3 linked regions of the Homo sapiens genome follow. The protein of the gene in region 3 interacts with the protein of the main gene of each other region in a biochemical or structural test. Each region holds a gene or a part of one and is shown on either strand. Other genes may lie near its edges. The genes, in order: CBX3, TRIM28 and ZNF10.

Region 1 (11,099 bases), on a different chromosome or scaffold from region 3:
ACTAGAGAATATAAAAAAACAATATTTTTCAAATTTTTTGAGAAACAGTCTGTCATCCAGGCTGGAGCACAGTGGTATTGACATAGAGCTCACTGTAACCTTAAACTCCTAGGCTTAAGGGACCTTCCCAAGTAGCAAGGACTACAGGTGCAAGCCACCACACCCAGCTAATTTTAAAATTTCTTGTAGAGGTGGGGGTCTCACTGTTGCCCGGGCTGATCTCAAACTTCTGGGATTCAAGTAATCTTCCTGCGTTGGCCTCCCCAAATTTTGGGATTACAGGTGTGTGCCACCATGCATGGCCAAAGGACAATATATTGTTTTCAGAAATGCCCTTAGTAAAATTGAATGTAGGGCCACCAACTACTAATATGAATAGAAGGTTCTCTATCATCTGTGAACCCACCGCTGAGAGCAGTGGTGGGTATATATATATATATATAAGGAGGTACTTAATAAACATCAGTTATTTACCTTTTTCTGTATGGATTTTGGAAATCAATTAAAATGTGTCTATCATCACACTGAGCCCTATCAGAATACTTTACATTCTTTAGAAGACAGTTACAACAAACCAGAATTTAAAACCTCATTTTAATGAGACAATTGACCCTAGGCATCACATGAAACTTTTATTTCCCAACTGTGGAAACATTCCTGTGGAAATACATATTCAAGTTTAAAACTCGTAAGCTCAAAAGATCTAGGATATGTACTGTAATGCCTTACTGGTATCATCTAACTTATAAACAAAGATAATCCAATGAGTGTGGGCATTTCTATTTCTACTGTAAAGGCATATCAAATAAAGAAAAAAGTCTAATAATTGCATAAAGGAATATAAAACTATTTATTAACCACTGTTCACCAGTATTTACAATAAAGTAAACAATATACAGTTGGATAACATTTTGATTACTACAAAGTTGTTCTTCCTGGCTTTTGCTGAACCAGTAAAGCAAACTCAAGATTGAGCCTCCATGTAATGAATTGGGGTAAAGAAAAAACATGCAGGTCAATAGGTTAGGTTACAAAAGGTTGTTCACACATTTATGACAGCAGGTCCTAAACTGCCAACACCTCTAACCATCTGATTAGGTTTCTATGAGCCAAGTCTTACATATTCCATTCATCATGACCTTTTAGTCAATGTAGCAACAGGGATTCCAACATTTTGCTAAGGAATGGCCCGCTAGGGAAACTTTTAAATGTTCATTTAACTTAGTTTTGTTTAGCTAGTTAAAACACACTAGCATTTGTCTAGTTTCCTCATCTGGATGAGGAAACCTGCTGTGATGGCAGTGATAAAATTTTTCCTTTTAGGAATTTTGCAAATAAACCACTGCAATTATAGACACTTTAAAATTATCCAATTTAAATTGTCCTATCTAGAATTACTTATTTCACTTGAAATGTATGGTTTCAGGAAAATTTTCAATTTAACTTGAAGGGATTATCTCTTATTTTGCTTGGAATAATGGCATCTCAGAAACATGGGTTTACCTGTGATTTTTTTGTTTGGGTGAATGCTTAAAAACAAAAAAAAATTTACATATGCATTTTATGGATACACACACACACACACACACACACACACACAAAAAACACGTAATAAATCTAGAATGGTCCTTAGGCTCATGAGAACACAAGTTTTGACTGAGTAATGACTATGGACATTTCCCCCAACATTTAGAAAAGCTGTTCTTTAATGAAGAGGAAATGATATACCATGGTATCAAATGTTCTTTTCTGATAAAGGAAGCAACTACAGAAAGCTTTTATTTATTTGTTCAAAGTAACCAGTGCTATGGATGCAAAAAACCCCCAACAACTCTTCCAACGCTACTTTCAAAACAAACATATCAAACTTGATTTTCATTAGGATGTAGTTATTTTGTCACACTAGTAAATCAAAATCTAAGACCCAATTTTTATATATATATATAAATATATATAAAAGAACAATGTGAACAATTATTGAGCTTCATCTTCTGGACAAGAATGCCAAGTTAGTCTCTCTTCATAAAAAGCAATTACAATTTGAGGACACTTCATATTTGCCTCTTTCGCCAGCACCAAGTCTGCCTCATCTGAATCTTTCCTGTTTTAAGAAAAAGAAAAATTCAGTTACAAGTCGAAGTTGTTCATGTCAACCGACAGCCATTCATTTAAGAAATAATAGTCCAAACAAAAGGTATTGAAGTGCTCCAGGAGAGTTATGTTACTTGTTGCTATGTTCTAATAAACTTCATTTTCAAAACAGGCCACAGTTTGCTGACCCTTGCTTTAAAACACTACTAGTAAAAGTAACCAGAATCATCCTCTCAGCAGATAGTTTTTCCCTACCTAATGATGAAAAACCATTTCACAAATTAAAAAAAAAAAGCTACTCTTACTTTCAAATGTAACAATCTCTGCATACTCACCATTTCATGAGAAACATCAATTCTCCACTGCTGTCTGTGGCACCAATTATTCTTTCAGGATCAAGACCTCTGGCAAATCCTCTTGGTTTGTCAGCCTGTTTAGAAGACATTTTTTCATACAGCAAACTCAGAGTATTAAATTGTTTTCATGGCGTATTTTAAATAAAAACATTCCAATAGTGAGATGGAAATGACTAGAGCAAGAACCCATATTTGGTAATTAAAAACATCTGATTTCCATTAACTTTACAAGCAGAAAAACCTGAGTTTGATACTCAACGTAGAATACTTAAAATTTCTGAAAACATTCAGAATAAAAAGTCAAGAAAATTACTGCGTTCAATGACACCAAAGTCAGAGTTGTGTGGGCATACAGAAAAACTAACCTCTTTATTTCTGGTAATAATAAAGTCTTGAAAGTTAATATATTTCAAATGACTTCCAGGAATTAGTCTGAATTACTGACACATTTTAAAAGCATAAACAAAACACAAACGGTAAGAAATATTAAAAATGTTAAAACTCATACCAACTATCTGTAATCATTCTAAATGATAGTAAATGTTAGAACAAACTTGTGTAACCTGTGGCCCAGGATGGCTTTGGAGGCCCAACACAAATTTGTAAACTTTCTTAAAACATTGAAACTTTCTTGCGATTTTTTTTTTTTTTTTTTTTAGCTCATCAGCTATGGTTGGTATTAAGTCTATTTTATGTGTAGCCCTCGACAATTCTCCTAATGTGGCCCAGGGCTGCCAAAAGATTGGACCCCCTGCGCTAGAAAGTACTTAATATAAACCAGTGGCTCTCAAAATGTGGTCTACGGATTCACTGGGGATTCCAGAGTCCTTTTTGGGAGGGGGTTGTGTAAGGCCCCCTTTTTTCATCTATTTGTGACTTTGGATTGTCTTCATATACCTCCACCAAAATGATCCGCCACAGCAATCAAATGTGTTTAAGTAAAATTGCCTTAAGACACATGTTGAATATCTGTAAAAATGTAAAATGCTACTCTTCTCAGCTTTTTTAGAAAAGTCATTTTAGAAATTTGTTTTAATTTCTACTGTTAGTATTGATAATTATAACCCATATAAACAAAAGCTCTCTGGGGATCCTCAATAATTTTTTTAGAGTATAAAGAGGCCCTGAGACCAAAAAAAGTTTGAGAACCAATGATATCAATAAATCCTTTATTCCTGTCAGAGTTTTACATCAATGTCACAAGCTCTGGAGTCACACTGCCTGGGTGAGAATGATGGACCTACCCCACTTACGAGCTGTGTGGCTTTGGGCAAGTTAATTAACCTCTTTGTGGTTTAGGTTAATAAAACAGAATTTTAGTATCTACTGCACAGATATTTCACAGCACATTAAAAGCAAATAATTTGGCACACAGTATAGCACATGCTAAGGACTCAATAAGTGTTGTTAAAGTTGTGCCTGATTTATTATTTAATAATTTTTTGAGACAAGGTCTTGCTCCGTTGCCTAGGCCAAAGTGCACTGGCATGATCACAGCTCACTGCACCTTGAACTCCCAGGCTCAAGCAATCCTTCTGCCTCAGCCTCCCAAGTAGCTGAGACTACAGGAGGTGTCCACCACGTCTTGCTGATTCTTTTTTTTTTCTTTGTAGAGATGGGGTCTCACTATGTTGCCCAAACTGGCCTCCAACTCCTGGGCTCAAGCGATGTTCCTGCTTTGGTTTCCCAAGGTGCTGGGATTATAGGTGCGAGCCACCGTGCCTGGCCAAAACTGCTTCTGTTGAGCATGTGATTTATTTTCAAAACCAAATTTGTAGTCAATCTCGTTTCCTCATCTGTAAAATAGTGATTATACCTATGACCTTATACAGAGTTGTCTTGAAGGTTGTACTTGGCTTCTAGTTCAAATGATCAAGTTTTAAATCATGTTTAGTGCCTGAGCCTAGAACCTAATTCAGCACCAAGATGTTTCCCCAAATTGCCACACTAGGTCAGTAGGCAAGACAAGTATAATCTGTTTTACAATCAAGGGTGTAAGTAAGAAGTTACCTGATTTGCCTGACGCCACAGAGACATAAGTAAAGCAAAGACTGGACCAAAACACATGTATAGTGAATGAACTGAATGTCTCAATTCATGCCAAGAAAAGTGTTTAACTATTATCAAAGATTACAGACTTCAAAATCAAGGTATTGTTTGGCAATACAAAGATGACATGCAAGTACTTTTCGGTGGTCAATGCCATTGATGGACTATAATCAGAAAGTTCTATTTGCGTTGTTCTTACTGTAGTGCAAAGGCTTTCGATAATCCAATCTTAGTATTGTTTGTATTTAAGATTGCTAGCCTTGGATCACAGGTAATTGGTCTGATCAGGGATCAAATCCATGAAACTAAGAAAAATTGCACTAGCACAACCTAAGTGGCATGAGCACTTACTGCACATTTACACAAAGTAGGCTAAACCACGCCCATCCTTATTGTCCTAAGTATTAAAATATTTAAAATACGATTAAGAGGCCTTTTATAAAAGTATCTGAATTTTAAAAAAGCAAGTCGTCAAAGGTGGGCTTGGTGTGGTGGTTCACGCCTGTAATCCCAGCACTCTGGGAGGCCGAGGCGGGTGGATCACCTGATGTCAGGAGTTTGAGATCAGTCTGGCCAACATGGTGAAACCCCGTCTCTACTAAATATACAAAAACCAGCTGGGTGTGGTGGTACACGCTTGTAATCCCAGCTACTCTGGAGGCGGAGGTTGCAGTGAGCCGAAACTGCACCACTACACTCCAGCCTGGGTGACAGAGGGAGACTCTGTCTCCCAGGAAAAAAAAAAAAAAAAAAAAAAAAAAAAAAAAAAGGCCAGGCGTGGTGGCTCATGCCTACAATCCCAACACTTTGGGAGGCCGAGGCGGGAGGATCATGAGGTCAGGAGTTCAAGACCAGCCTGGCCAACATGGCAAAACCCCATCTCTACTAAAAGTACCAAAATTAGCTGGGCGTGGTGGTGGGCACCTATAATCCCAGCTACTTGGGAGGCTCAGGCAGGAGAATCGCTTGAACCCAGGAGGCGGCAGTTGCAGTGACCAAGATCATGCCATTGCACTCCAGCCTGGGCGACAAGAGCAAGACTCCATCTCAAAAAAACAAACAAACAAAAAAGAAATCAAGCCATCAACCTTTTACAAAAGGACAAGCTGGTGGGCAATATTTTATACTTACAGCATCTCTTTTCTTCTTTGATTTGCTGTCATCAGATTCACTGTCAGATAAAGATTTTCTTTTTGTACCATCTTTTTCTTTGCCAGCTTTCTGAGAGTTAAGAAACGCTTCAATCAATTCTGGACAATCTAAATTTTCTTCAGGTTCCCAAGTATTGTCAGCACTGTGTTTAGTTTATTAAAAAAAAAAAAGGTGATTGAATTAAATATGATTCATCACCATTATCCAGATCTATTTTAATAGACACCCGGGGGAATAAAAAGTCCTCTGTACTGCAGATACTAATCATTTCCTCCTTCCCTACATTACCCCACCCCCCAGCCTGCCTCCGCCAGAGACAGGGTCTTGCTTTGTTGCCCAGACGAGAGTGCAGTAGTGGAATCATAGCTCACTGAAGATTCCAACTCCCGACTCAAGCGATCCTCCACCTCAGCCCAAGTAGCTGGGACTACAGGCATGCACCACCATGCCCAGCTAACTTAAAACACACACTTTTTTTTTTTTTTTAATAGAGAAGGGGTCTCATTTTGTTGGCCAGGCTGGTCTTGAATTCCTGGTGTCAAGTGATCCTCCAGCCTTGGACCCCCAAAGTGCTGGAATTACAGGTGTGAGCCACTGCACCCAGGCCCTATATTCTAATTTGCTACCCTGAGACTCCAAATTAGTAAACCCAAATTACTGGGTAGAGGACAATAAAAGTCTCTGCTCTGTAGTATTATTTTCATTAAAGTCTTCTTTGGCCTGGCACGGTGGCTCACACCTGTAATCCCAGCACTTTGGGAGGCCAAGGCAGGTGGATCACTTGAGGTCAGGAGTTTGGGATCAGCCTGACCAACATGGTGAAACCCGGTCTCTGCTAAAATACAAAAATTAGCCGGGCATAGTGGCAGGCGCCTGTAGTCCCAGCTACTCAGGAGGCTGAGGCAGGAAAATCGCCTCAACTCGGAAGGCAGAGGTTGCAGTGAGCTGAGATCACGCCACTGCACTCCAGCCTGGGCAACAGGGTGAGACTCCATCTCAAAACAAAACAAAAAAAAGTCTTTTACATTACCTGTTACACTGCACATGGGAAGTACGCTATAATCATGCTAGTGGCCTTAAGTTTTGGGAGAAGAGGGAGGAGCCCATTCATTTCCTAATGTTTTGATGGGTAAAAATAATTTTTCATGTTTCATGGGCTTAATAAAGAAGGGACTTACGACACATACTTAATTTAAACTAAGAATACTGAAGGATAAAACAGGCAAACGTAAATCTCCCATTCAATTCATAATTCCCAAACTGCTATGAATTAAATGTGAAGAGCAGGGGAAGTAGGAGATAACAGATAGGTGAAGCCCAATCATTCGACTATCATATGCTCCATCTCCAGCGTGCTCAGGAAATTGATCTCCACCTATCCATTTTTAATTGTCACTGCCTATGGAGCTTTGTGGTGTAAGGGGGAAGAATCAAAGCAGATAAGCACAACAAACCCCAAGCGTTAAAGTATGTAATTGTTGCATGTTCAAGTTATTCACATTTTGTGAATAACATTATCAAGAATAATGAGAGCAATCCATATCAAAGAACACAAGGAACCAGAGAGCTTAAAACATGCCCAGGTTCTACTTCTTAGGTATAAGGATATAATAAACCTAGTATAAAGCCTAGATTATATGTAATCCTGTATGAGACCCACTAGTCTATATTGTAAAGCTTCAATGTTTTTAGCACCCTCTGTGTGGAGGAAAATAATGCAGATTATTCTAATTAGTGTAATATCTAACCACATTAAAATATATTACATAGTAAACTACACTCCATAATTTTATAAATTTGACTCCCCAGGGTAATAAACTAGTCTCTAGTCTGCTCACCTTCAACTGTACAATAAAGTCTTGGTTCTTTTGAAATAGACCTCAAATGAGACACCTAAAATTCAAAGTGTCTTTACATTTAAAGACACCTACAGGAAAGCAGGTAAAAGAGCCAGGTTAAAAACAAATTCTAAAACCACTTAGCTGCAGTTAAACATATAGTAAAGATGCACTAAAGTTTCTTACTCTGTAAATCCCTTCCACTTCAGGAAATATTCCACTTTCCCATTCACTACACGTCGATCTAGTACTTTTTCCACGACAAATTCTTCAGGCTCTGCCTCTTCAACTTTTTTACTCTTTCCATTCTGTTTTTTTCCCATTTTTTGCTAAAATAAAACAAAAGAGAAATTAAGAAATATTCCTCTTGAATTTTGAGCACATTTTCAAGGCTCAATTGCTTATATTATTATCACATTCGACATAAATTTTTACTTCTATATCCCAGGGCAGACACCTTCTGGAAAGATTAAAAGTCAACAGACAATAAAATAAAAGAATGCTTTATCTTGTTCATTTAGTTCAAACTTACAACCCACCACCAAAATAATACAATAAAAAAACACTATCTGGAAACAGTTATTTTTTTCCAGTCTTTTTTTTTGAGACAGGGTCTCACACTCTTGTCGCCCAGGCTGGAGTGCAGTGGCGTGATCTCAGCTCACTGCAACCTCCGCCTCCCCAGGTTCAAGCAGTTCTCATGCCTCAGCCTCCAGAGTAGCTGGGATTATAGGCGGATGCCACCATGCCGGGCTAATTTTTTTTGTGTTTTTATTAGAAACAGGGTTTCACCATGTTGACCAGGCTGGTCTCAAACTCCTGACCTGAAGTGATTCACCAGCCTGGGCCTCCCAAAGTGCTGGCATTACAGGCGTGAGCCACTGCGCCCGGCCCTGTAGTCTTAAAAGACCAAGTTTACTAATTTTCACTCATTTTAACAACACTGCAACAAACAACTATGCAGGAAGTACCTAAAGGGTGATACAGAGAAGCAAGTAGTAGTGACAGGTCTTAGGTGAACCTATGACAGACCTTGTATCCACCCCCAGATGGTAAAAGCCCCAGCCCCCTTCTCAATTCAAATATTAATGTCAAAAGCATCAATGATACAGAGAAAAGATAAATGCAGAATGAAAACATGGTTCAAAATCCTGATACCAACTGCAGGGTCAACTATAGAGACCACTAGGAGGTTCAATTAAAGGACAAGATTATTTTTCCATAATCTCTGTAGATAATATTTCCTACCACTTAGAACAAAACTATAAAGCTATCACTTCAAGAGACCAACATTACAAATTTATTTTAATTCCCTAAGGTGAAAAAAATCCTTCCTTCCTGGTTTCTCAAGAGAAAGTCTATACTGGTAACCAAATTCACTTTAAACAGGCATTTTCTTTGGTATGACACTATTTAAGAGAAGCAGGAAACCAACGTGAACCAGCTCTTTCCAATGGCTCAAGATTTCCTATGAGAGGACTAAAAATGGGGAAAATTTTTATGAGAGGATTAAAAATGGGGGAAAAAAAACCCTGAAATGGTTAATCAGAAGATCCTATGGGCTGAGAAGGAATCCATCTTAACATTTCATCTTAAAGCAAATGCTATTGCCGGGGGCAGTGGCTCATGCCTGTAATCCCAGCACTTTGGGAGGCCGAGGTGGGCAGATCATCTGAGGTCAGGAGTTTGAGACCAGCCTGACCAACATGGAGAAACCCCGTTTCTACTAAAAATACAAAATTAGCCAGGCATAGTGGTGCATGCCTGTAATCCCAGCTACTTGGGAGGCTGAGGCAGGAGAACTGCTTGAACCCAGGAGGCTTAAGTTGCGGTGAGCCAAGATCACGCCATTGCACTCTAGCCTGGACAACAAGAGAAAAACTCTGTCTCAAAAAAACACAAAAACAAAAAACCCAAATACTATTTAAAAAAGATAAACCTTAATTGCTCAATCATTAAAGCCATCCCACAAGTAAAGCAGCAAGCAGAAAAAAGTTAAGAACACCTCAAGGCTACAGAAGGACATTTCAAGCTATGCAGGCATATGAAGTGTGCAGACAGATATGTAAGAAAGGCCTCAAGACTGCAAAAGGGCATTTCAAGCTATGCAAGCATATAGGTAACACATACACACACACAAAATAAAAATCCCCTGAAATACAAAAACATGCAGCAAACACCTGACGTTTTTGGATACCATTTCTAAGTCAGGTGTTATGATTCTCATTAGTCAAGATACTTGAGTACTGGGCCCAAACAGCTTTCTGCCACTGTACAGTACAAGAAGGTAGGAATAATGGTGGGAGGAGCAAAGACAAACTGTAATAGACAGAAGTGTATCAGATACCTATACTACATGAAAAACAAAACAGCTACTGCCACAAAGGGAGAAGGCTAACAAAATAAAGTCAACAATAAATACAGAAAATGAAAAGGATACACACTAAGGTTTACAAAAAAAAAAAGGCAGACAAAATGCCATACAGTATTCATTCACTACTATGGCATTCATAAGCTAGTTTCAAATGCTCACTATTTTCTTTTATAGTATATATTTGCCTTAACCCAGCACTTTTTTCCAAAAGTGGATGAGTCAAAATAAATTTCCCATTATTTAAGTGAAATTAACAGCACACATATCTCACAACACTAATGAATTTTTAAAATGGAAAGTTAAGAACTTTTAAAGTGGCCAACCTGTGATCCTTCACAAAATAAACTAAATACAATAACAGACCCCAAAGGCTATCAATTGCGTGCAAAAACAACTTCTGTTTTCCAGGGTAAACAGAATCTAATGCAGAATCTAATGCAGGGTAAACAGACTTAATGCAGAATCTAATGATGGCACAAATTAAAAATCACTAACGTGCCCTTTTTAGTGTGAAACCCAGAGAGAGCACATACAAGCCAAAAACAAATGCTTTATTTTACCTAGGAGACATTAACATTCACCTTTACGTGTTTAAGATTAATGCAATGTTAAATATTGTGAAAACTGTAACTTTGAATTTCATGATTTTTATGTGAATATTCCAGGGTTTAAAAAAACTTGTAACATGACATGGCTGAATAAGATAAAAAAAAAATCTAGCCTTTTCTCCCTTCTGGCTCATATTTGCGATTTCGATCATTTTGTTTAAAAAACAAAACACTGCAATGAATTAAACTTAATATTCTTCTATGTTTTAGAGTAAGTTAAAACAAGATAAAGTGACCAAAGTAATTTGAAAGATTCAATGACTTTTGCTCCAACCTAGGTGCACAAGGTACCTTGTTCTTTAAATTGGGCTTTAATGAAAATACTTCTCCAGAATTCTGGGGATTTAAGAAAAATTATGCCAACCAACAAGGGCTTTACCATTTTATGTAACATTTTTCAACGCTGCAAAAATGTGTGTATTTCTATTTGAAGATAAAAATCCTCAGCAAAATCCACATTGCACTGTCCTTCAAAGATTAGCCTTCTTTGAACTAGTTAAGACACTATTAAGCCAAGCCAGTATCTCCCTGTAATGAATTCGTTTTTCTCTTAATTTTCCCCTGTAATTTACACTGGGAGAGCTGGGAAATATGTGGATGTAAATTTCTCAGCCACAGAGATGCAAAGTTA
Region 2 (8,251 bases), on a different chromosome or scaffold from region 3:
TGGCCTTGGGATTCACACAGGCTCGACTGTAGAGTAACTAAATCATAACACAGAGATGAATGATAATGTTAAGTGGACTCAGCAAAGGGAGACAGGGAAAAAAACCACATCTGGAAGGTCTCAGTTCACTGTGGGACCTTCTGAAGATGAGAAACAGCTACAGCACCAAAATTTAGGAAGCATTCAGTAGAGTGGCTGTGCTACACCTGGGGCTAACCCTGCCTACACAGGGATGTAGGTCACACCTACCCAGTATCCCACAGGGTACCCAACAAGCCTCTAGTGTGTACATCCTTTGCCCTGGGTGACCCTCCCCATACCCAGAAAGGGCAAGGAGGCAGTCTTCCCCACTCCCTAGGCATCCATACACATGGGCTTCGATAGGTGGGGGACAAGACCCCCCTCCCTTGTGCCACCAGTGCTTGATAAGGCTGACTAGTAGATACAGTCAATAAACCAGGCCCCAGGACCACAGTCCCCCAACCAGCCAACGCCTGAGGAACTGGTGAAGTTTTTATTAAATCCACAGAAGTAAAAACCATATCGTGAGGAACTGGGGGATGGGGCCACCAGGGAGTGGGAGTCAGGCCACCAGGGGAGTGGGGATGGGGTGACAGGACAGAGAACAGAGCCAGGCTGGGCTGGCCATGGGGGCTCCAGCCTCAGGGGCCATCACCAGGGCCACCAGACAGCTCCTGGGAACTCAGGCCAGCACCAGGCAGGCTCATCGGCGGGGGCTCCACCAGCACAGCAGAGAACTTGGTGTCACCGAAGGCCTCGTTCATGCGCGTCTCGAAGAAGCGCTGCAGGCCGATGATGGACTGCACGTCTGCCTTGTCCTGGGCCAAGCAGGAATGCAGTGGATGAATGGGTCCTAGTTCTTTCCTTCACATCTCCCCCTGCCCACAGCCTCTCCATTCCACTGGCTCACCTCAGTTAACTTGTTGAATTGCTTGAACATGCGGCCCACATCCTGGGCAAACTCCTGTGGGGAGCTGTAGGGAGGTGACAACTTCTCCTGGAGGCGGGCACGGATCAGGGTCAGATCCAGGGTGCCACCGGGCTGGTCCTGCAGGCAGAGATCACACATACACACACAAAGACACACATATACATGCACAGGTTGAGGGCGAGACCCAGCAGCCACCACCCCCTTCCCCTTTCCCATCCTAGGACTCACCAGGGAGAAGGTGGAGTCGGTAGCCAGCTGATGCAGGGGGCGGCAGGGTTCGTGACAGAATAGGGCCAGCAGTACACGCTCACATTTCTACAAACATTGTAAGGGATGTCACAGCTCTGGGCAGCACCTATAAAGCCTCTCTGGGCAACCCCACCTAAGTAACCCCAGCCCTCACCCGCTGGTTGGCTGGTGAGAGCTTGGCCACCACGCCAGTGCTGTCTGCACCATCCAGGCTGAGGCTGCCATCCTCCTCCTTCAGGTCAGGGAGCACATGGCAGAGTGAGCAGCTCCACTCCTCCCTAGGGTGAAGAAAATAAGGGTCTGCACATGATCCTGTCCAGACAGCCCAACACCCAGACTTGACCCCCACCAGCCTCACACTCACCCTGGTACATCCTGCAGGGCCGGCAGGTGACAGTCCAGGTGGAAACAAAACTCACACTGGTTGCACATAACCAGATCGCCTGGCTTCTGGCAGACACGGCAAATGGTGGCACTGTCATCCAGGGTTCCCGGGCCACCACCTGGGGCTGAGGTACCCTCAGGAGCCACCACCTCCAGCCCTGAGCTGGTGCTGCCACTAGGTGAGGCCAGGCGGGGACCCTCAGCACCAGGACCCTCCGCAAGAGCCATAAGCACAGGTTTGGTCTCAGGGCCCTCAGTGGCAGTAGGAGGGGCTCCAATGGCAGCCTCCGTCTCCTCCTCCTGCAAGGTGGTGATGAGGGGTGTTCAACAGGGTCCAGACCTGGACTACAGGCTTCATCCTACAGCTATAGTTCCTTGGGACAGGCTTACCTTGACAATGGCCATGCCAGCCAGGGGTGGGGCACCAGGGGTTCCTGCAGGCGCAGTCCCTGGCTGGCCGGTAGCTGCAGCGGCAGCGCCACGTTCAATAACAATAAGGTTGTAGTCCTCAGTGGTACTGCCTGGGAAGACCTTGAAGACGGGTGGCTGGCTGTCAGCTGTGAGGTCCAGGTCCAGGCGTTCAAGGCTCACTCGTGGCACCTTGCGCATAAGGCCGCTCACCTCGCCCTCACCTGAGCGGGACCTGTAGATGCAGCAACCTGGCATGAGTACACCCCCACCCTCCATCCACCTCACCCCCAGGGGAGGTGCCATACTTACCGTTTCACACCTGACACATGGGGCTCTGCACTTGAGTAGGGATCATCTCCTTAGAAAATGGAGAAAGAAGACTGGCAGGTTGGGGTAGAAACAGCACTGGGGCCCTTCCCCACCCACTAGGCAGACCCACTCACCTGACCCAAAGCCATAGCCTTCCTGCACCTCCATGGGCTGTGAACAAAGCAGAACCCTCTGCCTCAGTGGGACAGGAACCCTACTGGACCCCATTCCCTGCCCACCCCCCCTGCCTGGGTCCTCTCTCCTGCTACTGGACCCCATTCCCTGCCCACCCCTTCCTGGGTCCTCTCTCCTGCTCACCTGGCTGCTGCCAGAGCCCTGCTTGCTCAGGGGCCCTGGGGCTCTTGGAGGGGCCATGGGTGCAGGGCCTGTTGAGTTAGTGCCAGGACGCTCTGCCACAATCTTGCCTGCAAAAAGAAGAGAGAAACGTAAGTAGGTGCAGCACGTGGGGTAATAACAGAGTGAGGTAAAGCTGGGGACCCACCAAAGGCCTCGGCACTCTTGGTCCAGGCATTGAGGTCCCACTGAAACTTCATCTCGCCATGTGGCTCCACGGGATCCACAATCATCTTGAGGGCCCGGTGCAGCTGGAAGTAGATCTGGTTGGGAGTGAAAGGGAGGAAAGAATGAGCACACCAACAACAAATAGGGATTTGAGGTATTGGGAACCACCTGCCTGGAACCCACCAGCCAGGAGCCCACCAGTACACACCAACTTCTTAGAAAGCAAAAGGGCTGTGTTGTTGTCACTCTCCAGAGCCCAAGAGGCAAAGCGCAGAATGTGCTCCTGGTGCTTCTGGATCTTGGTCATGGTCCAGTGCTGCCGCTCCAGGCGCTCCTGCTGCCCCTCAGTCACCTTCTGCAGATAGAAGGTGTATGAGGTAAGCAGAGAAGGCAGAAGAATACTAGGATCACTCCTCACCCCAGACAGCATCATCAATCAGCAGAGGGGGCTCAGGGACCCTTCTCACCGGCACAAGGCTTACCTGGGCATCATTGACCAGCACACGGCCCCGCTTATTCAGCTCCTTCATGATCTGCAGGATGGCCATCTTGACATCCACTTGCACACGCTTCTGTACGTCAGACACCTGGCGGATTCTAGGGGACACAGCAGGTCAGGCTAGGTAGGGTCTTGCTGCCCTGGGCCACCCCCACAGCCCCAGAACCCACACTTACGAGCTGCGAACCTCCTTGGTGCTCTTCTGCAATGTTGCATGTTTGTCCCCAAGGCGCTTCACCAGTGAGGCCAGGAGCTTGCGCTGGTTCCTCACTGCATCCTCTAAGAACTGGTACCTGAGAGCAGACAGATGTGTTCCTGAGCACTAAGCTACGGAAGGGGTGGCACCCACCCACCCAACCACTATGCCTTGGGACTCACTGGTGGTCCTTGTGGGCATTGAGCTGGCAGTCTCGGCAGGTGAGAGTATCACAGCTCTCACAAAACAGCACAAGGGGTTCATGCTTGTGTACGTTGCAATAGACAGTACGTTCACCATCCCGAGACTTGGCTGGCCCTGGGGAGTGGGAATCATAAGGCTGGACCTTGCCCTTCACCACCCCCAACTCAGGAAGCAGAATGAGTTGGGGCCTCATTTCCGGCCTGTTCTGTGACACTGGGCCATTTATTGGGAAGATGTAGAGGGTGTGGCCAGGGAAGAACACAGGCCTGCAAGCCCAACTCCTTGCTCCCAGAATCCTCTGCCCCAACATAGCTGAGAAACACATCCCTTTCTTCTAGCTTCTAGAGATAACAACAATGTAAGGGTAAGGATAACAGCGTCTAGAAAAAGAGGACCACCCCACCCCACCCCCCACCCCCGCTGACCCTTCCCCACACTGTTCCCTTTACTGAACACTTCTCCAAGTGGACATACTCAGAATTCTGCCTACACACCACCCTGGATTCCTTTTCTTCTCCTTTCATGGTTAACTTCCTCCCTCTTCCCTGACAAGAGAACACCAGGGTCTCTTACAATCCAAGGGCCCAGAGGAAACCTTGTAGAGGTTCTCATACTGGGAGAGATGAAATGTCAAACCAGGACCCTCAGAATGGTGGTCACACCCCCTCTAGAGCAGAATCTTGGTGCTCAGCATAATCCCACCCAAAGACCAACCCATTAATAACCTCCAAAGCCTGTCTCCCCATTAGAAAACTGATCAAACACACTGGTCCCACATACCAACCAAATCCAAAATATGTAGCATCAGGGCTCATTGGGGAAACTGACTTCCCCAATGCCACTCATTCCTGCACCCTGACCTTTGCCTGGGACGTCTGGAATGTAGGACACCCTGCAGCCCCTGCGTATCCCTCCTGGCTGCTCAGGCCCCACAGCCACCACCTTCCCGCTATCTTCCACCAATGCTGTCCTCTGGGATGGGAAGAATCACAGTATGGCTACCAAAAGGCCACTCATGGGAGGATTCTGGCCCCAAAACTTGGCTAGACTCAAAAGACTCTCAAGCTCCTTCCAAACCAAAGCTAGCTGTGTCTGTGAAAAGCTGGAAATGCCAAACCAAACTTTGGGTAAGTCTCTGCCAACTCAAAAGCTAAAACACTTCCAAAAATCATCATCACTTATAATCCATGGACCCACAGTCTACTTTCCCTAGCAGCATCTTATACCAGATGTGTGCCAGGGAACCACAAACCCAGAAAGCCCTTCACACCATGCCTTTCCCTGTTTGCATATGCTGAGCCCTTCACCACCAGGTCTGACAACTCCCTGATAAGCCTTCTCAAACCCTTTGTACCTCCCTGCAGCACATTAAGGTCTCCCTTATTTCCCCTTCCCACCCTCTCCCACCTAGGCCCTAGAGACTACACACCACAACCCCAGTTTTTCTGCTTCTGGAGTTCTGCCCTCGGGCCCTTCGGGCGGCACCCCCTAGAGAACTCTAGGACCCATCCACCAGATGCAACCAACATCATAAAAGCAACTGAGGGCACACATGGGAGAACAACTCCAACAGCCCCCCTCAGCCTCATGTACCAGTAGAGCGCACAGTATGGTCCTTGGTGTACTTCACCCGCTGGTGCGCCTCTACACAGGTCTCACACAGAGGCTCCGAGCACTCCACACAGTAGCTGGTGGCTGGGGCATTATCCTCACAGCTAGTGCAGCACTGCCAGACAAAGGCAGGGTCAGAGAAGGCAAGACAACTTGATAGATCCACGTTTACATCCCAGAAAATACAACCGGAGATTTAAGATTGGTCCCTTGACCCAACCTAGGCAGCCCACCCAGAGCCTTGGGAAAGTGGAGTAACAGCCTGGAGCTGGTGCCAAGCTCCTCCTGCGCAGATGCCCCCTCCCCAGAAACCTCCTTGTGGTTGCTGAGATAGGACGCACCTGGTTCGCATCCTGGGCGTCGGTGGCAGCCTTGCTGCCACTATCACGCATGAAATAATTCTCCACGATGTCTTTGGAGAAGCACTGTTGCTTGCACACGGGACAGTCCACCACTTCGAGAAGCAGGGATGTGGGAGACTGTTACAAGTTCCCACCCAGGTTATGGCCCCCACCATTCCCCTGCTGGGTGGGCCCCCGACCATTATCCCGCAGCGAACCAGCCCCTCCCCTCCCCGAGCCTTCTTTTCTCCAACTTTAGTCAGATGTCCCATCTCAGCGGCCAGCACAAACCCACGTTCGTATGCAGGACCCAGAAAGTATTTCCCGTGCCCTGTCCGGGCCCCCATCCTCTCGCCCAGGTGGCATCCTCATCTCTGCACCCAGTCGGAATCAAAGGCAGAGAGTAGGGGGAGGGGTGGCACCGATCACTTCGTACTTACCGGTGCCGTCGCCCGCCGCCCCGCCGTCCCCCGAGCTGTTGGCGGCGGCGGGGGCCGCGGGCCCTAAGCAGGCACTACAGGCCGAGTGCAAACAGGGCAGCAGGCGGGGCTCCCTCTCGGGTCGCAGGCGCTCTCTGCACACGCCGCAGTGCTCCAGCAGCTCCAGCGCCTCGGCGCCGCCCCCCGCGGGCGACGACGCCGCGGCTGAGGCAGAGGCCGAGGCTGCGGCCGAAGGGGCGGTGGAGCGCTTTTCGCCGCCAGCGGAGCCCTCGCCCGGGCCCGGGCTGCCAGAGGCGGCCGAGGCCGCTGCTGCCGAGGCTGCCGCCGCGGAGGCCGCCATTCACACGCCGCCGGGGGCGCCCAGGGGGGGAGGAGGGGCGCGGGGCCCGCCGCGCAGGCGCAGACGCGCTCGCCGCCAACTGCTGGGCCGCTGCCGCCGCCGCCGCCGCGAGGCCGAGCGCCGCCACGCGCCTCCTGGGCCGCTGCCCGCCGCGCGCGGGACGCTGCTACGGCACGGCCAACTGCTGCCTGCTCGCCTCCCGAAGGCGCCGCCCGCGCTTCTTCCTCAGCCGCCGCCGAAACCCGCACCACGCGCCACAAGCACAAGCACAACCGCTCGCCCGCGCGCCCGCTCGCAGAAAGAGCCGAGGCCGGGGGGCGGGACAGAAATAACTGGCGCCGACGCCGCCGCGCACGCGCATTGGGCGCCTCACGCCCGGGGGCGGGGCCCAGGCCGGTCGGTGCGGGAGAGGCCGCCAGTACGCACGCGCCAACTCCTAGTCCTTCCACCACCGCCAACCCCACGTCGGTGGGGCTCTTGTGGGGGCGGGGCGGGGCCTCTGTGACGTCACTGCCGCAATTGAATCCGCCAGTGGGGTATGCGAACCTTTATAGAGTGTGATTCCCCTCTCAGCTCCACCTCCAGACCACACAGAAGCGGGCCGCTGTGCGCCCAAGCGCATGGGCAATCCGTCCCTCTTCCTCAACCCGCGTCTCTTCGCCGCCGTAGAGTCGTCTCCAGCCTCTGCGTCACTAAGAGTTCGGGATAGGGGGCAGGGCCGATGGAGAAGTAGGCGGGGCCAAGACCGAGTGAAGGGCTGTGTCCAGGGAGAGGGGAGGAGAGTCTCCATCCCAAGAGGGAGGAAGCTCCTGTGTGAGCTCGGGTGCTGACTTTTGGATTTTAACCACGCTATAGTTAAACTTGAGAAACACAGAAACTTGACTGAATCAAATGTAGATCACAGCCGGGCGCCGTGGCTCATACCTGTAATCCCACCACTTTCTTAGGCGAGTCGGGAAGCTCCGTTTAGCCCAGGAGGCCGAGGCAGCAGTGAGGCGGGATTGTGCCACTGCACGCCAGCCTAGACCACAGATGGAGAAAAATGTGGCCGGGCGCGGCGGCTCACGCCTGTAATTCCAGCACTTTGGGAGGTCGAGGCGGTTGGATCTTAAGTCAGGAGTTCGAGAGCAGCCTGGCCAACGTGGTGAAACCCCGTCTCTACTAAAAGTACAAAAAGTAGCCGGGCGTGGTGGCAGGCGCCTGTAATCCCAGCTACTCGGGAGGCTGAGGCAGGAGAATCGCTTGAACCCGGGAGGCGGAGGTTGCAGTGAGCCGAGATCGTGCCATTGCACTACAGCCTGGGAGAAAAGAGTGAAACTCCATCTCAAAAGAGGAGAGAAAGGTTTTTGTGTTTGTTTTGAGACGGAGTTTTGCTCTGTTGCCCAGGCTGGAGTGCAGTGGCACGATCTCGGCTCGCTGCAACCTCCGCCTCCCGGGTTCAAGCGATTCTTCTGCCTCAGCCTCCCGAGTAGCTGGGATTACAGGGGCCTGCCATCACGCCTGGCTAATTTTTGTATTTTTAATAGAGACGGGGTTTCACCACGTTGGCCAGGCTGGTCTCGAACTCCCGACGTCAGATGATAGACCCACTTTGGCCTCCCAAAGTGCTGGAATTACAGGTGTGAGCCACCACGCCGGGCCCCCCAACCCCCCATCAAGAAAAAAAATATATATATATATATACACATATATATAAATCACAAGAGGCTAAAGAGCAATGAGTCTGTGAAATCCCACCCAGCCCCCCAAGGCATCCCCTCCCCATGTTTTCGTCAGCAGCTACCCTGACTTTG
Region 3 (11,907 bases):
GGAAAAACTGGAACAACGATGAGAAAAGGTCCAATGTTAGGAGTTAGAAAGCACAGCAACAGCCATTCCACAATGTGAGCTTTACATTTGCAAAGAGATTTTTCTTCCCACCTCCAAATGGTAAAATCTCCTAGAAGACTATATAATTCTATTTGTGAACATAAATGTTACAATAAAGTCTATATTTTCTACCAGAGTGGTCACAAAAAATATTTATAATCACTCCATTTTTCTTCTGAGGCAAAGTCAAAACATAGTGCCAGAGAAAGGGAGACTATTTTTATTTTGGTAAACTCTTAAGGACAGAGGGCTATATTAGTTTTCCATTGCTGCCAATTATCAAAACTTTGTGGTTTTCAACAACACACATTTGTTACATAACAATTCTGGAGGTCAGAAGTCTGATACAGGTTTCGGAGGGCTAAAATTAAGGTGTTGGCAGAGCTGTGTTCCTTCTGGAGGCTCTAGAGAAGAATCTATTTCCTTGCCCCCGTCCAGTGTCTAGGACCATCTACACTCCTTGGCTCCTGACCCTTCCTCCACCTGCAAGGCCAGCAATGATACATTTCTCTGTGCCTTTCTTTCATGGTTATATTTCCCTGATTGCTAACCTTCTTATCCCCCTTTTACTTTTTTTTTTTGAGAGGGAGTCTTGCTCTGTTGCCCAGGCTGGAGTGCAGTGAAGCAATCTCGGCTCATTGCAACCGCCGCCTCTTGGGTTCAAGTGATTCTCCTGCCACAGCCTCCCATATAGCTGGGATTACAGGCGCCCACCACCACACTCAGCTAATTTTTTTTTTTTTTTTTTTGTATTTTTAGTAGCGACAGGGTTTCACCAAGTTGGCCAGGCTGGTCTCGAACTCCTGACCTCAGGTGATCTCCCCACCTTGGCCTCCCAAAGTGCTGGGATTACAGGCGTGAGCCACCGTGCCCGGCCACCCAGCTCTTTTACTTTTAAGGACCCCTGTTATTACACTAAGCCCACTGAAATAATCCAGGATAATCTCTCCCCATCTTGAGATCCTTCATTGAATCACAACTGCAAATTTTATTTTGCAGTATAAGGTAAAATATTCCCAGGTGCTGGGGATATCTCTGGGGAGCCATTATTTTGGCTGCCACAAGGGCAGAGATGGGCTGAAAAGAAGCTCCAAGTATCGGCAAGAAGGCTATGAAAGTTACTATTTGAGGCACACGCAGTTCCAAAGCACAGCTCCAATCAAACACTTAGCGTACAAGTTTCACAACAACGTTCTGGACCCTTTTCAACTTAACTCCCACTACACTTGCCCCATATTCTCTAAGGATCACTTTAATGCCATCTATGCTGTGACGCCTTCCCACTATCTCAGAGAGGATCAGTGGTTCTATCATCCGTAAACATGAAGGACTCTGCCCATGCCCTATTCCAGCACTTCAACGCTGCCTTACGGTACCAAGATTTGTCTGTCTCCCTTATGAGATAGTGAACCACTTAAGAATTAGGACAATCTCATTCTAAATCCTGGGAAGAGGCTAGCAAAGTGCTTAGCACTTCATATTCATTCACTCTGACATGTGACTATACTTAACCAGCACTCACATTGACAGGTACAACCTCGTCAGGAACCGCATTTCACTTGGGGACATGGAGTACATGTTCATTAATAAAGAGAACAGGGTCTCTTCAAGTTCTGAATAGGTTTACCAGTATTTGCTTCAGCAAAGGGCAAGGTATGATCAGCAAAAAGGACCCAGCAGCCACAAAGTTAAAACTCGGTAACCAATAGACATGGCAAAGATATACTTAAAGATACAAAAGGCAAAGATCCTGCATCTGTCAAAACTCAGCAAATGTACACTTAAGATTTGCGCTTTTCATGTTATGTAAATTTTACATCTAAAGAAAAATCTAAACAAATATAGAATTCTAATTAATAATACATACGTATTCTGAAATTTTTAAGGAATACGTACCCATGTCAATTTACTTTGAAAAAAATTTAAAAATACAATGAACTGATGGATAAAAAGAGGGACAGATGGGTATGTGTTAAAATTAGGTACAGTAAAATATTAATGGTAGAGTCTAGATGGGAAGGTTTATAAGTATTCACTGTAAACTTCTTTTAATTTAGCTGTATGCTCAAAATTCTTCATAATAAAATTTTGAACAGGAAATGTTAGGATCAGTCAGCAAGGAGATATTGTGTGGAAAGAGGAAAAAATAATGCTCTTGGATGTTCATTACGAGTCAAAGAGGCACATACACAGACAAAGGTGGCCTATATCATATCTTGTCCCAACCTTGCTTCATAGCCAGAAGAATTAAAAGCCCTGGCTGACATGAGACATGCTAGAAAGAGTACTGCTGATGAAAGTAAAAGAGTCTCTTGTAGGCACAACAGAGATATTAACAATAAGAAATTTCTTTTTCCTTAAAATACTTTTTTTTTGAGACGGAGTTTCGCTCTTGTTGCTCTTGTTAATTTAAGATGTGTATCTCAAATCTCTGCCCTTGTGACTGGCATATGTTAATTAGCTGGGCATGGTGGCTGGCGCCTGTAATCCCAGCTACTAGGGAGGTTGAGGCAGGAGAATTGCTTGAACCCAGGAGGCAGAGGTTGCAGTGAGCCAAGATCGAGCCATTGCACTCCAGCATGGGCAACAAGAACAAAACTCTATCTCAAAAAAAAAAAAAAAAATTCTCAGATTTTCTTGACAATTGAATATAATCTATAAACAGAACTGTTTTTATTCTTACTCATCCTTTATTCTTCTAGTAAGAATTGCCTAGTAAGGTTTTGAAGTTTTTCTCATATAGTTCACATATATTTCTAGCTAAAATTATTTTCTTCCTATTGTGAAGACTTTTTAAAAATAAAAGTATGTGCTAACTTGTTGAGGACGGCAATCAATCTATTAGCTTATATATTTCCTTTTCAGTCACTTTACTACAAATTATTGATAGTAATTGAATCTCTTCTCATTTTGGGGACTTAATTAGTTAATTAATTAACAAGGATAATTTTGTAATCTCTTTTCCAGAAGGTAAGCCTCATATCTACTTAAATATTGTCCTAAGTAGAATTTCCAGACAGTGCTTATATAAAATACTGATAAGCAGAAATTCTCATTTAATTTATGATGTGTATCTCAAATCTCTGCCCTTGTGACTAGCATATACTAAGAGCTAAAGAAATGCATGCTGAGAGAAGTAATCAAAAAACAAATGTAACTTTCAAAAAGAGGCAGGAGCGTGTGCAACTTACCATCCAAGAGGCTTTGGAAGATGGGGGACAATTTTAGTAAAACAGAAGAGATTAGTTATGTCACAAGAGAAAAGTTAGTGTGGAGGTAATTTTCAAAAGGGTAGGGAGGATTTGTGCTATCCAGTTCTCGGAGACCTAACTGCAGTCATTTCTAACCTAATAACACTTGTTGGCTGGCATTCTGGGTGACATCCTGCCTTCCCTTTTACTTTTTTTTTTTTAATTAACAGTATCTTTCTGCAATTAATGTATAGCTGGAATTGAAATTGTTCACCTTCTGCATACACTTTGGGTGGGATCTACGTACGAAATCTTGATGTTAACCTTATCTTTGACACTCATATTATGTGTTAGATGGCGTATATATATCTAGTGTCAAGGGAAAATAAAAATATAGTAATTAAACTTATGATCTGTCTCTGAAAATAAAAAAAATAGATTAACCACACAAACACGCCTTCAGTTAATCTATCTGATTAAAAAACAAAACAAAGATGAGGAAGCTAAGAGCTAGAGATGCAGGATTTGTTTTTAAAAGACCACACACGAATCGGCGTCACTATTTCAACAAATACTAGAAAGGCCATATGCAAAATTTTAAACATCTATCCCAGCTGGGGGGAAAAATGGAAGTTAGACTAGAAGAAACCTTATTTTGTATTACTGAAAATATCTGGTTCAAACTTACCACCACCGCCGCCCACTCTGCGTCAATCTCCAGGTGCAGCCGTTATTCTCCACAGAACAAGAACGTCCGCCGTGAACGCCGGGGCCGCGCGAGGGACAGAAAGTGACTGAGGCAAGGGGTGACGATCACCGTTAAATTTTTTCATTGACGAAATTACCGTCTACCTAGAAATACGAAGCTAATACACTGCTACATTACTAAAGGGCTCAACACGCGCCTGATGACGATGCAAACACAAAATTCAGCACTTTCGTATATACCTGCAATAAGCAACTAGAAGGTTCGATGGGAGAAAGCGATCCCGTCACAAAGGCAGCAGCAACAGCAAAACAGAGAACGCGACTCCATTCACCAGCGGAGCGCGAAGAGCGGCGTCAGAGGTGAGTCTGAGGCCGGCTCGGCACGGCGGCGCCACCTCCCCGTGGCCTGACGTCACGCACGCGCACGCGCCCCGCCCCCATTGGTCCTACGCCCGCCCCTGCTGCGAACGCACGCACACGCACCCACAACACACACCGTTACGCACGCGCCCCAGCCTGGCGTTCAGGCCACGCTCCGCCCCCAGCCCGTCAGCCGCGCGCCCCGGGACCCTAGAGCCGGCGATTCGTCGCCGGCGCCGCAGCCGCCACTCTGTGCCGGACCCTGCGGGCCTTCGGCCCAGAGCGCGTCCGTGACGCACAGACCAGGCCCCTCTGCGGGGCGGCGCAGGAGCTCCTGGGAAACGTAGTTCGGCCTCGCGTCCCCCTCGGGCGGGACCGCGGACGCCTGGAGGCAGGCACTGAGGACGGGTGAGCATGCGGGCCTGTGGCTCGTTCACCCGGGACAAGTCCCTCGTGGGATCAGCCTGGCCCGCTGAGTTCTCCTGCGTGCAGGGATCGCCTCACGGGAGTCTGAGCAGCAGGGAGCCTGCCCGGGAGGCGGCGGTGGGAGAGGCCCTTGAGGGAGGAGGGGCTACTTACCGGGTGCGAGTGGAGCGCGGGGAGCGAGTGGGGACCAGGGGCGCGCGGGGCGGAGGGGTCCCGGGCTGGCTGCGGGTGCCACGCAGGGAGCGCTGGGGGGCCGGGGATGCGCGTTTGCCTCCTTCTCTAAGCAACACGGGAGGGCTAAAGGGTGCACGCCTCTGTCCAGCAGCCTCTCTTGAATCTCTAAACCTAGTAATGAGTTGAATCACAGCCATCGTTTTTTTCACCTATTGCCTTATACTGTGGTTGAATGCGATATGGTTTTATTTCTTTAATACTCTGGTGTATTCAATTGGCTGTTTCCCTTTGACTTCACCTATGCTCACAAGATTGTGTTTTAATCTTTTTGTGTACTATCCTTGCCCGTTATACTAACAAGATTTTACAAGCTTCATGAATAATTTGGACAGCACAGTCTCTCTTCTATTCTGTAAAACAGGTCACCACCCCTCACCGCCCCCCGCCCGCCTCCAAAAGTTTGGTGCTATTTGGTCTTAAAATATTTAGTACGCATTTAACTTCTGACTCAATTTTTTTTTTTTTTTTTTTTGAGACAGAGTTTCGCTCTTTGTTGCCCAGGCTGGAGTGCAATGGCGCCATCTTGGCTCACAGCAACCTCCGCCTCCCGGGTTCAAGTGATTCTTCTGCCTCAGTCTTGTGAGTTGCCGGGATTACAGACATGAGCCACCACGCCCAGCTAATTCTGTATTTTTAGTGGAGATGGGGTTTCTCCATGTTGGTCAGGCTGGTCTGGAACTCCCGACCTCAGGTGATCAGCCTGCCTCGGCCTCCCAAAGCGCTGAGATTACAAGCGTGAGCCACCGCACCCGGCCCTGACTCAATTTTTTAAAAAGTCTCATTGATTAGGTTTTTTAGTTCGTATTCTGTTTTAGATACCTTTCCTAGATAATTGTTTTTAATCTAATTTTTCAAATTTATTGGCATAAAATTGCCCATGCTATTTTATCACTGTAAGTAATTTCTATGGTGATTTTTAAAATCACCACTTTTTAATATTTTACTGCTGTAATTGTTATTTTTTTCTTTTTTGAACCTAATTATCTAGGCCTTTTTTTCTTGATTACTCCTATAAGGTATATGTGTACATAGTCTTTTCAAAAATGTAGATTTGGTTTTGGTTTTTTTGTTGTTTTGTTTTGGTCTTTTTTGGGGAGGGGGGTCCTATTACAGTAAGTTTTGCTCTTAATTTTTAAATTTTTCTTTTACTTTGTCTCTGTTTTTCTACTTTTTTTTTTTTTTCGAGACAGAGTTTCACTCTGTCTCCAGGCTGGAGTGCAGTGGCGTGATCTCGGCTCACTGTAGCCTCTACCACCCGGATTCAAGCGATTCTCCTGCCTCAGGCCCCACCACGCCCGGCTAATCCAGCTAATTTTTGTTTTTGTTTGTTTGTTTGTTTTTGAGACAGAGTCTCTCTCTCTCGCCCAGGCGGGAATGCAATGGCAGGATCTCTGCTCACTGCAACTTCCACATCCCGGGTTCAAGCCATTCTCCTGCCTCAGCCTCTGGAATAGCTGGGATCACAGGCGCACACTGCCATGCCCGGTTAATTTTTTGTATTTTTTAGTAGAGACGGGGTTTCACGGTGTTGCCCAGGCTGGTCTCGAACTCTTCAGCTCAGGCAATCCGCCCGCCTTGGCCTCCCAAAGTGCTAGGATTACAGGCGTGAGCCACCGTGCCTGGCCATCTGCTTCTTGATTTGACTGGGTAATTAATTTACTACTCTTTATTTGTGCTCCAAGAAATGTGTGTGTACATTTTTAAGAGCTGAATATGTTAAAAGACTCATAATAAAAACAGGAAACACCTTAACCCCATCTCTTCCCAGTGGCAACCACTTGGAAATATTTAAGCAGTTCTGGCTTCGAACTCCTCTCAGTATTTTTTTATTCACCGATTTGTGACATTATTTTAAAATTTTTATCATGTTAAATAAGAACTTTGGCTGCCTTCTTTCTACATCCTTAAATCACAATGTAATTATTTTACAAATATTATAATGTAGTTCTCCCACAAATTTTGGATAAATATGTTCAGTGTTTTCATTTGATGACTACTCTTTAGTACTGAGCCATAATATGTTTCTTTCTTGTGCAAGGTTTACCTTTCTTGTTTTTAATGACTGCCTTTTTTATTCATTTGCTTAGTTTTTCTTAAATCTATGTAAAATGTCTTTTGGTTCCATTTTCCTCAAGGGCTAATCTGTCATACAGTCTTATCACTTTTCTCCTTTCCTGGACATCCCCCTGCAATGTAGATTGATCAGTTACTCTGTAGGCATGCAGCACGCTGGCATACCACTGGGCTTCCCTTTTGCCCTCATCAATTTCCTCATCTCACCTCTGTGTTAAATCTCCTGTTTCCTGTAAAGCACTTCTATTCCTGTTTGGTGGATTGTAATCTTAACTGCCTTGAAGAAAGGGTCCATATGATCTACATATATTAAAGTTGTAGAAATGATTAGAAATTACTTTTTCCTCACATTTGTGTGGTGTTTTCACCGAGTATACACATCTCAATAGGAAATTACTTTCCATTAGAATTTTGAAAGCCAGTGAAGCTAGATAGGAAATGGAGCAGTGTTACTGTTACTGTTGAGAAGTCCTATTTCATACCTTGTTCTTTTATGTGTAATCTGTTTATCATCTCTTGGAGCTCTTTGGTATTCAAAAATTTCATGATGATGTGTGTTCTAATTATTTAAAGAAATTACTTGCTTTGATGGATCAGTTCTTAGATACTGTGTTTTTTTAAGGAATAAGAAGTTTCTGGCCGGGCACCGTGGCTCACGCCTGTAATCCCAACATTTTGGGAGGCCGAGGTGGGTGGATCATGAGGTCAGGAGTTCAAGACCAGGCTGGCCAAGATGGTGAAACCCCATCTCTACTACTAAAAATAAGAAAATTAGCCGGGCGTGGTGGCCGGCGCCTGTAATCCCAGCTACTTCGGAGGCTGAGGCAGAGAATTGCTTAAACCCGGGAGGCAGAGGTTTCAGTGAGCCGAGATTGTGCCACTGCACTCCAGCTTGGGCGACTCCGTCTCAAAAAAAAAAAAAAAAAAAAAAAGTTTTCCTGTACTTGTTTGTTTCTTCCTCTTGTTTTTTCTTTCTGGAACTCTGAGTAATCTGGGGTACCTTAAATTGCTCATATAGTGGTCTTTTTTTATTTATTCTTACTTTTTCTTTTAGATCAGCTTTACTTATTTATTCATTTATTTATTGAAACAGAGTCTCACTGTGTTGCCCAGGCTGGAGTGCAGTGGCACATCTCGGCTCACTGCAGCCTCCACCTCTTGGGTTCAAGCATTTCTCCTGCTTCAGCCTCCCGAGTAGCTGGGATTACAGGTGTGCACCAACACATCTAGCTTTTTTTTTTTTTTGTATTTTTATTTGAGACGGGGTTTCACTGTGTTGGCCAGGCTGGTCTTAGAATTCTGACCTGAAGTGATTCGCCTACCTCGGCTCCCAAAGTGCTGGATTACAGGCGTAAGCCACTGTGTTCAGCCAAGATCAGCTTTCTAGAAAAGTTCCTTAAGTTTATCTTTTTTTTTTTTTTTTTTTTTGAGACGGAGTCTCGCTTTGTTGCCCAGGCTGGAGTGCAGTGGTACGACCTCGGCTCACTGCAAGCTCCACCTTCCAGGTTCATGCCATTCTCCTGCCTCACACTCCCGTGTAGCTGGGACTACAGGCACCCACCACCACGCCCGGCTAATTTTTTATATTTTTAGTAGAGATGGGGTTTCACAGTAGCCAGGATGGTCTCGATCTCCTGACCTCATGATCCACCCGCCTCAGTACTGGGATTTCAGGCATGAGCCTCCGTGCCCGGCCCTAAGTTTATCTTTTAACCCTTGTACCTTTTTGGGGAGTTTTTAAATTATAATTTTTAACTTCCTGGGAAATTAAAAAAAATCCATAGAGTTGTATTCTTATTTCATAGAGGAAATATCTCTCTGATTATTTTTCAAATTATGAAGTTTTCAAACACATACACAAATATAGTAGTACAGTGTACCAATCATCCTATTTTATTTTTTCCTGATGAGAAGATGTACATATTTAGAATTAGCCAGCTGGACTCAGTTTAGATTATTCAGTTTTGTTGGCAACATCCAGAGCATGGGAACCAGGAGCCAGTCAAACATATGCCTTCTTCTCTCCATCAGGCCTGATCAAGGTGTTGACCTTGGCCACATCAGTGTCATAGAGCTTCTTCACAAGCCTGTGAGGAGGGCATGTTGACCTGGTGCTTGTTGGCTTTAAGATCCACAGTGAGCACAAGTGTGTTACCTTCTATCCTCTTCATGGCAGACTCAGTAGGAATTTGATGATAGCATGGTGGTCAATCTTGTTTCTCCTGAGGGTGCTCTTCTGAAGATACGTGGGCTGCCTCCAGAGCCTCAGTGTCTTGGGCTGCTAGAAGATGGGTGACATGCGGATCTTCTTTTTTTTTGTTGCTGTGAATACCTTTCACCACTGCCTTTTTGACCTTCAAAGCCTTTGCTTTGGCTTTAGCCATAGGAGAGACAGGAGTTTCCTTCTTCGCCATCAGTGCCATCTTGTGAAAAAGGCCCCATTGTTCTATTTTGAAGCAAATCTTGGACATTATATATTATTTGCAAATATTTCAGAATGCATCTCTGAATGATAAGTACTCCTTTTTAAGTAGGATAGTCTCACACCTGCAAAATTTGTAATTCCTTTATATCAAATTTATAGGCAAAAGCCAAGGGATGGGGTGGGGAGGGTATGCCTGTAGTCCCAGCCATTCAGGAGGCCAGAGGCTAAGGTGGAGGATCACTTAAGCCAGGATTTCAAGGTTAGCCTGGCCAATATAGTGACACCCTGTCTCTAAAAAATAAGTAACTAATGTATAGGCAGTGTTCAGATTTTTCCGTTTTCTCGTGAATTTTTAAAATTCATTTCTTTGACTCATGGTCCAGATAATGTTTATACAATTTGAAGTCTGTATGGTTTTTCCATAGAAAAATTATGTCTCCATATTGTTTTAATTCCAATATCCCTTGCTGTGTGCTCTTTTGAATATGCTGTTGTTGCTTTGAAGTTTGTTGTTTTCTGTTTCTTACATTGTTTCCTCTGAATTCCTTCTTTGCTTTTGTTTTACTCCTACACCCCTCTGCTTTCTTCTGAGTTCAGCTTACATCCTTTTAGTAGTTCCTTCAGGAACTATCTTGAGTGGTTAACACACACACCCATATAGAACACCCATATAAAACAACAACAACCTAGAATTCAATCGTATGCTAAAGACTGAGAGCAATATAAAAGGCCTTTTATATTGCTCTCAGTCTTTAGCATACGATTGAATTCTAGGTTGTTGTTGTTTTCCTTTAGTACTTTGAAGATATTATTTTATTGCCTTTTTGGCCTCTATCTTTGCAACTGAGAAGTCTGTAGTCAGTATAATTGATATTCCCTTGTAGATAATTAGCCTTTTTTCTTCGGTAACTTTAAAGTTTTACACATTATTCTTGATATTCTAGTTTACCTTCAGTGTAGCTGGTAGCTGATGTATTTTTAAAATGTATTCTACATGGCACATGGTATATAGGCTTTCAGATCAAGGACTTATATATCCTTCTTTCATCTTGGAGTAAAAACAATCATTCATTATATCTCACATTGCTTCTTTTCTGTTCCCTTTTTTCTCCTCTTCTGGAATTCCTGTTCAACACATATGCATATCTTTAATCCATCTGGAATTTGTGAATGTGAGGGGTGTGTTTTTTTCCAAACAGAAAGCCATTTGTCTTGATATCATTTGTTAAATAGTTCATCCTTCCCCCCACCGATTTAAAGTGCCATCTTTGTTATGTACTAAATGTCTAGCTACACAGAATCTGTTTCTGAAGATACTGTTTTGTTTTCTATTATTGCCCTAATATCATTCTGTTTTACTTACTAGAGATTTATAATGTATTTTGAAACATAATAGGGTAAGGCATTTTAAAGTATTTGCCTTGATTTTTTATATATCTTTAGTTTTCTATAAAACTTTAAAAGCTACATTTCAGGAAATCCCTATTAAATACATAGATTAATCAAAATCCCATGGTGATTCACCTAGTGAATCTCGCCATTTATTCAAATATTTTTTCCTATTGTTTAGTAAAGTTGTTTAGTGTTTGTAATTAGTGCTATAACTAGAAAAGAAAGAAAACTATGAGGAATGAAGGGTTAAACCTGCAATACAATTCTTAATATCTTTTACTACAAGGCAAACAGATTTTCTTTCTTGAAGAGGAAGCCTAACTTTGTTGTTGTTGTTGTTGTTGTTGTTTGTGTGTGTTTTTGTTTTTTTTTTTTCAAGCAAAGGATTTCACTCCGTTGCCCAGGCTGGAGTGTGGTAGCATGAACATGGTTCACTGCAGTCTCAACCTCCTGGGCTCAAGTGATCCTCCCATCTCAGCCTCCTGAGTAGCTGGGGCTTCAGGCGCATGCCACCATGGTTGGCTAATATTTAAATTTTTTGTAGAGACCCAGAGTCCCACCATGTTGCCCAGTCTGGTAGCAGTCCTCCGCGTTGGTCTCCCAAAGTGCTGGGATTACAGGCATTAGCCCCTGTACCCAACCCAGAAGCCTAACAATTTCCTTTTCCTTCTTGAAAGAAGGGTGTGGGTGTGGAAAAAATACCCCCATGCACAAAACCTTAATTATCATAGGTTCATTTGGTTTACTCAAATTGTTGAGTTTCTGCCATGGGCTGAGGACTCTTCTAGGTACTAGGAATATAGCAGTAAACAAATCAGACAAAATCTATTTCTAAATGAGTTTCCCTAAAGTGACAGACCTATATACGCTCCTGGTTTAGGGACATAGACTACCTGATAAAGATCTTTGTCTAAATAAAAATGTCAGTTCTATAATTTTGTCCATTAAAACTGAGTTCTATTGATGTACAGTATTCACAGAAAAGACTTGCATTTGACGGTTAACTACCTAGTCTTCCAAAAGTGAGAACTTTAAAAA

The links.
Region 1: the proteins of ZNF10 (region 3) and CBX3 form a complex in vitro, tested with the Homo sapiens proteins (one study listed by BioGRID).
Region 2: the proteins of ZNF10 (region 3) and TRIM28 form a complex in vitro, tested with the Homo sapiens proteins (6 studies listed by BioGRID).

The regions. Positions count from the first base shown.
Region 1 is NC_000007.14:26,203,084-26,214,182, reverse strand, and holds the end of CBX3 (chromobox protein homolog 3), read right to left. Parts: intron 7,816-11,099; coding exon 7,673-7,815; intron 5,791-7,672; coding exon 5,628-5,790; intron 2,522-5,627; coding exon 2,427-2,521; intron 2,102-2,426; coding exon 1,975-2,101; 3' UTR 576-1,974; downstream 1-575.
Region 2 is NC_000019.10:58,542,965-58,551,215, reverse strand, and holds TRIM28 (transcription intermediary factor 1-beta), read right to left. Parts: upstream 7,153-8,251; 5' UTR 6,459-7,152; coding exon 6,119-6,458; intron 5,792-6,118; coding exon 5,679-5,791; intron 5,453-5,678; coding exon 5,320-5,452; intron 3,841-5,319; coding exon 3,705-3,840; intron 3,620-3,704; coding exon 3,503-3,619; intron 3,425-3,502; coding exon 3,310-3,424; intron 3,183-3,309; coding exon 3,036-3,182; intron 2,923-3,035; coding exon 2,808-2,922; intron 2,731-2,807; coding exon 2,624-2,730; intron 2,477-2,623; coding exon 2,440-2,476; intron 2,355-2,439; coding exon 2,306-2,354; intron 2,229-2,305; coding exon 1,976-2,228; intron 1,886-1,975; coding exon 1,566-1,885; intron 1,480-1,565; coding exon 1,356-1,479; intron 1,268-1,355; coding exon 1,181-1,267; intron 1,070-1,180; coding exon 932-1,069; exon of another isoform or gene 840-931; coding exon 663-839; 3' UTR 501-662; downstream 1-500. UniProt on the Homo sapiens protein: Nuclear corepressor for KRAB domain-containing zinc finger proteins (KRAB-ZFPs).
Region 3 is NC_000012.12:133,123,047-133,134,953, reverse strand, and holds the start of ZNF10 (zinc finger protein 10), read right to left. Parts: upstream 4,328-11,907; 5' UTR 4,200-4,327; intron 1-4,199. UniProt on the Homo sapiens protein: May be involved in transcriptional regulation.